Linked DNA regions of Homo sapiens. The protein of the gene in region 2 purifies or fractionates together with the protein of the main gene of each other region. This does not show direct contact. Each region holds a gene or a part of one and is shown on either strand. Other genes may lie near its edges.

Evidence for each region.
Region 1: the proteins of MSRA (region 2) and SUMF1 purify together in Homo sapiens (affinity purification with mass spectrometry; one large-scale study listed by BioGRID and IntAct). This does not show direct contact.

The regions. Positions count from the first base shown.
Region 1 is NC_000003.12:4,414,381-4,418,769, reverse strand, and holds part of SUMF1 (formylglycine-generating enzyme isoform 1 precursor), read left to right. Parts: intron 1-637; coding exon 638-760; intron 761-1,527; coding exon 1,528-1,642; intron 1,643-4,389.
Region 2 is NC_000008.11:10,239,292-10,242,791, forward strand, and holds part of MSRA (mitochondrial peptide methionine sulfoxide reductase isoform a precursor), read left to right. Parts: intron 1-3,500. UniProt on the Homo sapiens protein: Has an important function as a repair enzyme for proteins that have been inactivated by oxidation. Catalyzes the reversible oxidation-reduction of methionine sulfoxide in proteins to methionine.

The DNA of each region.
Region 1 (4,389 bases), on a different chromosome or scaffold from region 2:
AGAATTGAAAGCCAAGGGTCACAGGTTGGGTTCTCTGGAAACAGAGGCTGAAACAGAGTTTAGGATGCAGAATGTTAGGGCCCCACACCTGTAGAAAGCAGGGGCCAGAGCAGGACTGGGCAGAGGGAGAAGTCAAAGCCACAATGCAGGTCCAACCAAGCTCCACCCAACACAGGGGCCTCTAGGGTGTATATGGCCCATAGGTTGAGCCACTGTAGGCTGAAATGGCTGGCTCTGTATGCCCCTGCTGTGGTTGGTTAGTCACTGGTTTCTCTGAGATGGCTGTCAGCTCTGCTGAACCCCAAAGGAGCTGAAAGCTCCTGCTGGCCCTCCTAGCAGCTGGAGTATCTCCGCATCTGCCATACCAATGACATTCTGTGGGAATCCGAGCCTACAAAGTGAAGAAATGTTTTGAGTCTAGTTCCCAGTGGAACTGTAACCCATTTGGGAGCCTGGGTTGTCAGAAACCGTTGGTGGAGCATGACAGATGTAGCATGGCTGGGGTTTGACTTAAGGACCAGGATGACCTCAGTGTCACAGATTGAACTGAGGGGGATTATGGGCGCTTTGCTGAAGCCAGCTCCTGCTTCTTGTTCTGATTGGTGTCACTTTTCATTCTACTTTTGCTCTTCCCCAGGCCGGATCATCCAGTTCTCCATGTGTCCTGGAATGATGCGGTTGCCTACTGCACTTGGGCAGGGAAGCGGCTGCCCACGGAAGCTGAGTGGGAATACAGCTGTCGAGGAGGCCTGCATAATAGGTATTTAGAGGATCTCATTTTGCCTGACAATATGTTGGTCATTTGAACAAACAAACAACAACAAAAAACTCCATGGAACTTACTTTGGTTAGAAAGTTAATAACGACAATAATTCTTTTTCTTATTTTTCCACGAAATTACTTAGAAGACACTGGAGAATGGGTCACAAATCTTTTATCACCCCTAAACCAAGTGTCTGGCCAAGTGGGCTCCCTCCAGCCCCAAAGCAAGTCTTAGCAATTCAACCCCCTTGAGTTACATATCACTGCTTAGAACTTCTTGGCAGACTGCCCTGCTTTTAGCATTTTCTTATTTTAGGCATCTCCTGAAGCAGCGGTATGTCTCTGCTTCTAGAGCCATGAGACAGAAAACTCATGTTGGGTTCACATCTTCTAGGAAAGGCTCCTTAAAATAGCCCAGGCTTTATAAAAAAGTGTGGTGTGGTGGTGCCTGATCACACTACCATATAAGTCCAAAATGAGGTCTACTCTCCCAGCTTTCTATAAGTCCTTCTTTTAGTTTTGTGATTTATTTCAGGCCTCCTGAGTACCTGGGCAAGACTGAGGCTGTTGTGGACGTGACATGAGAAGTTATAAGGAAATTGAAAATAAATCCTGATTAAAAGCTTTATTTATTTATATATATATTTTAACTGGCTCACTCAGAACAAGCAAGCAATGTTCTCTTTTTCATTGCATCCCTTCTCTTGACTTTCATCCAAAACCTGTGCCTGTTTGACAGGCTGATGCCTGTGTCTCTTCTGACAGACTTTTCCCCTGGGGCAACAAACTGCAGCCCAAAGGCCAGCATTATGCCAACATTTGGCAGGGCGAGTTTCCGGTGACCAACACTGGTGAGGATGGCTTCCAAGGAACTGCGCCTGTGAGTAATGAGACCTCTGCAGGAGGGTGGCAGCTGCTGAGAACTGAGGCTCCCAGTAGACATGGGGTGAAAGGCATTGCTCACTTTGTGACTCACACGGTGTTCCCTTCGTGTATGCATTCACTGTTGCACGTAGCAAATACTAATAATTAAACAGATTTTCTTTTTGTATAATGGATTTCCCTTTCTGATTCCATAATACTTACTGTAGATTATTTGGAAAAATGAGAAGACTATAAAGGAGAAAGCTAAACTGTCCTGGAATTCTACCACCCAGAAATAATACCTGTTAGCATATTGGTGCATTTCTTCCCCATTTGTTCTCTGTGTTGATGATGCTAATAATGGCGTGTAGTTATTGAGTGCTTGCAATGTGCTGGGCATTGTGCGCCAAGGCATTTGCATGAATTGTCTCATTTACTGTCCATTCAACTCTGTAAGGTAGGTACTATTATCCCCATTTTCCAGGTGAGCATTCTGAGGCACAGAGAGGTTAACTAACTTGCTCAAGGTTACACAGCTGGAAAGCGGCACAGCTGGAATTTGAACCAGGTCGGTTTATTTCCAAAGCCCATGCTCTTAACTACCGTATTTGCCAGCATATGTGTTTCTGGTGTATATGTATCATATTTTTTTACATATTGCATTTAGGTAAGACTGGATACAGTATTTAAAATCCTACTATTTTTTCCTGCCTATATCAGAAACGTTTCATCTGTCATTAGCAGTATGCCACAAATACATTGTCTTTCAGCAGCTGGATAACCTGTCATAAATAAACCCCAATGTATTTACTGGAAACAGGTTATTTCTGTTTTTTTTTTCTACAGTGAACATCTTGTACATAAATATTAACCTACGTCTTTGATGATTTTTGAAAGATAGATTAGATTCCCAGCAGTGAAATAATTCAAAGTCTAGAAAACTTTCTGGGTAAGAGTTTCAGATATATGGCCAAACTGTTTTCCAGAATGCTTGGGGCATGTTTTCCTCTATTGGTGTATAAGAAATCTTTTCTCACCGTTCTTTTGCTGGCATAATCATATACTCATAAAGCCATGTCTTAGTCTTAGTCCCTTTGTGCTACTGTAAGAAAATACTACAGACTGGATAATTTGTAAACAACAGAAATTTATTTCTTGCAATTCTGGAGGCTGGGAAGTCTAAGACCAAGGCAGCAGCATGATTGATGTCGGCTGCATCCACCAGAAGGGACTAATGCTGTGTCCTCCCCTGGCAGAAGGCAGAAGGCGGGCAAAAGAGCACTCACTTCAACCTTGAGCCATTTTATTTACTTATTTATTTATTTATTTTTGAGATGGAGTCTCACTCTGTCACTCAGGCTGTAGTGCAGTGGTGTAATCTTGGCTCACTGCAACCTCTGTCTCCTGGGTTCAACCAATTCTCCCATTTCAACCTCCCGAGTAGCTGGGACTACAGGTGCACACCACCACACCTGGCTAATTTTTGTATTTTTAGTAGAGACAGGGTTTTACCATGTTGGCCAGGCTGGTCTTGAACTCCTGACTTCAGGCGATCCTCCCGCCTCAGCCTCCCAAAGTGTTGGGATTATAGGCATGAGCCACCGCACCTGGCCCTTTGATGATTTTTTAAAGATAGATTCCCAGCAGTGAAATGATTGAGTCAAAGGTTAGAAAACTTTTCTTGGTAAGAGTTTCAGATATATGGTTGAATTATTTTCCAGAACACTTGGGGCATGTTTTCCTTTATGGGTGTACAAGAGTTCCTTTCTCACCATTCTTTTGTTGGCATAATCATATGCTCATTTGAAATGAGCTCCATTCCAAAGACACAGGTGATGGCTTTTGTGGCCCTCATTTGGACAAGACCGTGATAATCATTTCTTTTATTTTTCTGTCTGTTTTTTTTTTTTTTTTTTTGAGATGGAGTCTTACTCTGTTGCCGAGGCTGGAGTGCAGTGGCGTGATCGTGGCTCACTCCAACCTCCGCCTCCTGGGTTCAAGTGATTCTCCTGCCTCAGCCTCCTTAGTAGCTAGGATTATAGCTGTGCACCACAATATCTGACTAACTTTTGTATTTTTAGTAGAGACAGGATTTCGCCATGTTGGCCAGGCTGGTAGGTGATCCTCCCGCCTTGACCTCCCAAAATGCTGGGATTACAGGCATGAGCCACTGCGCCTGGCCTGTGATAAGCATTTTTGATGAACCAAACGAATGATATAAGTGCCTGTTCATTTTAACAAAAGGCCATGACAGGGTTTTCTTGGACAGTTATGCATATTTGACAGCACTTGCAGCTACAGTTTCTTTTCTATTTAATTACATGAGCTACCAAGGAATATAGAGCCATTTACTCTTCTAAAATCAGTGTACCTTTTCAAAAAATACAATGTTCAATATGAAATAAGGACACTCTACAGATGTTTAGAATTGGAATATTTGACTGAAAGTTCAGCATATGTGTGGGAAATTGACCTGAAGAAGTTGCCATGGAAGTTACTAAAACAGATTAGAACATTTACTGGGAGTCCTAAAGGAACCAATTTGACAAACAGGACTAGAGGAGAAAGCAAGCAAGCCAGCCAGAGAGAGACAGCTGCCATCTGTGTTTAGAATGAGTCTTAATGAGATCTCTATCTTATGGCAATCGTTTACACGTAGTATCTCAAGTCCACCTAAGCTGCTCTTTTGTGTCCACATGCTCTGGTCAACTGGAGCAGGAATTTAACTTTGATAATGAGATGGACTACAGGGAAATAGCTCCC
Region 2 (3,500 bases):
GCTGGGACTACAGGCATGTACCACCATGCCCAGCTAATTTTTGTGTTTTTAGGAGAGACGGGGTTTCACCATATTGGCCAGGATGGCCTCGATGTCTTGACCTTGTGATCCACCTGCCTTGGCCTCCCAAAGTGCCGGGATTACAGGCATGAGCCACCACCCCTGGCTCGAAATATGATTTTAAGCCCATCCAATTGGCAAATATTTATATACTTTGTAACACCAAATGCTTGCAAGGGTGTGGCACAACAGAGATCCTCCTACACTGCTTATAGGACGATTGTACCTGGCAAACTCCTTTTGCCTACTTGTCCCTGTAGCAGTGATCCCAGAGTGCCCAGGCAATAGCTGTATCTTATAACTCAATGGAGTCTTGCTATATTCCCAGATAAAAGTGTACTGTTTTGGGGACTAGGACCTCTAACTCTACAGAGCCAAGAGTGTGGGAACAAAAGCTACAAAGTCTCCCAATGGGTCCCTGAGATAGTAAATGAAGTCAATCCTGTTTCTCTCCTTTGCTTTCCAAACACGTGTATTATTCATTTGGGGAACATGGTGTGTCCCTACCTTTGGAGTGTTTGATTCAGTGTCCTGGAGTCCGGCACCCACCTGCACAGTTTGTTCACTGAACTGGTGCTGTGGCTGTGCCTTGGGGCTATTCCAGTGCTTTTTCAGGACGGCAGTTCCTGGTGACGTGCAGTAAAATAAAACAGGTGGAAACCAGCTGTGGGCTCACTGCTGCATTTTCCTTGCTGCAAAGTGAGTTGCTTGGTCTGATGGATGTTATTTAGGGGACAGAAGTTGGCCAAGACCCTGAAGGCAGGAAAGTCAAACACGTGCCAAGAATACATGTATGTGAGTGTAAGAACACATCACTGGCCCTTTCAGCATGGAAGGGGCCCGGTGTAATCCTTTGCCACCTTATGGTGGGTTGGTCCTCTCAAGGAGTGGTGCTGTGTGAGGCACTTGGTGACAGTCTCTGTTGCTGGCCATTTGGACATTTGGTGGTGGCAGTAGCTAGGTGGACCTTGGTGAGCGGGTGTGCATGCTGTTGGGCCATGTGTAACCTATCTCTGCCATTGTGGCCAGTTCGTTCCTGCATCCATTACGCAGGTACTAGGGTAGCCAGTGAAGACACTGGCTGGCATCCCCTGGCTGGGCCCCTTTCCATGCTTTGTGGATGAGTGCCTCTTTCATGGTAGATGCCCTCTGGCTGGCATTATCATGTGGTAAAGAGATCTTCATGCTGCATACTCACTCCCACATGTCCACCTATGTCTCTCTACCCCAGATTTCCTAATTCTTCCTCTTCCAGTCTTTGTGTTTCTGGCCTCTGACTAGGCAGCCAAGCCACTTGCTGCTGCCCTTGAGTCCACAGCTGTCCTGAACTTGGGCTATTCTTCCCTCTCTGAAGGAACCAGTTGGGAGGATTTTTCCCTTACCCCTGTCTTTCCTGGCCACTCTAGAGTAAGGCTGCAGTGGAGCTGCCCTGCATTTCCAGCCTGCACCCATATAACAAACCAACCATTCAACACCCCACCCCCCGCACCCCCATCCCCCAAATCGGCCTTTCTCTCTGCCCCCAGCTGGTTTTACAGGATCGCCACACAGCCGTAGGTGCGAAGTGAGGGAGGGAGTTGGTGCAGCCTGGTGGGTGCTGGGGGAGTCTGGCTTCCTATTCGTGCAGCTCACGCGTGCCCTCTGGTCCTGCTTGTGCATGATTCCCGATGTACAACTTCCTCTTTATGATAGACTGTGGCTGTAGCCCCTTGACCTTATAATCTGGTGGGTCTGATGGGACTTACCTTTTGATGGGAAATTTCAGCCACATCATCCCCTAGTGCTCCATGGCTGCCATGGTGTGCACTGTGCAGTGTGCTTCATTATCACCCATGTCATGATCTTGAAGTGCTTTTTCCCATTAAACTAGGCTTCTTGGTGAAATGGTCGATTCTGGGACTGGGGTAGGAAATGTGCAAGGTGAGTCTGGGACATCCTGTCAAACCAGAGAGCAAAGAAGCTATGAGACAACTGAGGAGAAGGAGCCAATTTGAAGAGGGTCTCACTGGCCAAAGATATGACTGCTGAAGCTTACATGAGAGCAGTCATTGAAACGATCAAATATGTTTAAATGAATATGTTTGTGATGATGTTTAAAAAACTCTTCGATTAGCCTGGGAGATAGCAAGTTCGTCATCTTGAAGACACTATGTAAATGGATGAAGCAAGCATTTATCTTCCCTGTCCCATGTGAATTGTACCACTGAGTAACAAAGTAGTAGCTGAGGGGAAGCTTTTCATTATAAGGTATGAAAATGAAGTGATAGAATTAGAAGATCACTATTTTGCAACTCTCCAGGAATTAATACATCTAGGCATTGAGCACCCATCAATGCTAACTAGACATGAAAGAGACAACTAGACATTTTGTGCTTTCTAATCAAAGACCATCCATAGCCCCACCTCTAGTCTTGCCAGAGGATCAAGTCTGAGTCTGATGAAGCCTCTGGATCCAATTGTCAACTTGCAGAAAGTTGTCCTCTGAGGACGGTTGTGTGAATTGAATTGCACCATGAGAACACAGTCCTCAGAATCCACAGTGTGAGAAACTGAACAGGTCAAGTAGACTGTGATCTTCAAGGGATAAGGTCAAAGGAAAAGAATGGAGACAATGTGTTGATTAAAATGACTTAAAGACAGCCGGATGTGGTGGCTCACGCCTGTAATCCCAGCACTTTGGGAGGCGGAGGGGGGCAGATCACCTGAGGTCAGGAGTTCGAGACCAGCCTGGCCAACATGGCGAAACCCCATCTCTACTAAAAACACAGAATTAGCCGGGCATGGTAGTACGCGCTTGTAATCTCAGCTACTAGGGAGGGTGCGGCAGAAGAATTGCTTGAACCCGGGAGGTGGAGGTTGCAGTGAGCCGAGATTGCGCCACTGAACTCCAGCCTGGGTGACAGAGGGAGACTCCATCTCAAAAAAAAAAAAAGAACTTAAAGACGTATCAAATTTAAAAAAATGAGCAAGACTATAATGTCAGGGGTGGACACTTAGATGATAAAGTGTAAGAAACATAGGAAGTGATTACTGTGAAAGTCAGATAACGGTTGCTTTTTGGGCTATAAGGTTTCTGTTGGGATTGGAGTGTAGCACACAGGGAGGCATGTCTAGGGTAGATGGCAAACTTCTGATTCTTGACCCAGGTGGTGGTTGTAAGGGTGTTTGCCTAATAACAGTGCATTGAAATATATGTTTGTTTTGTGTGGTTTTTTTGCATCAGTTTTGTTTTATAACAAAAGGCTAAAAATAAGTATTTAAAGAAAATAGTGCATACTATATTTTATTTGCTGATATTCATAATGATCACCAGATTATTGAAATTTATGAGTAATTTTGCTATAAATAAGCCTGTTTTCTTTGTTTAAACACACACACACACATTTTCACACTCACACCTTCAAAGCCACATAATAGAATGTTTAGCTTAAACCTGCAGC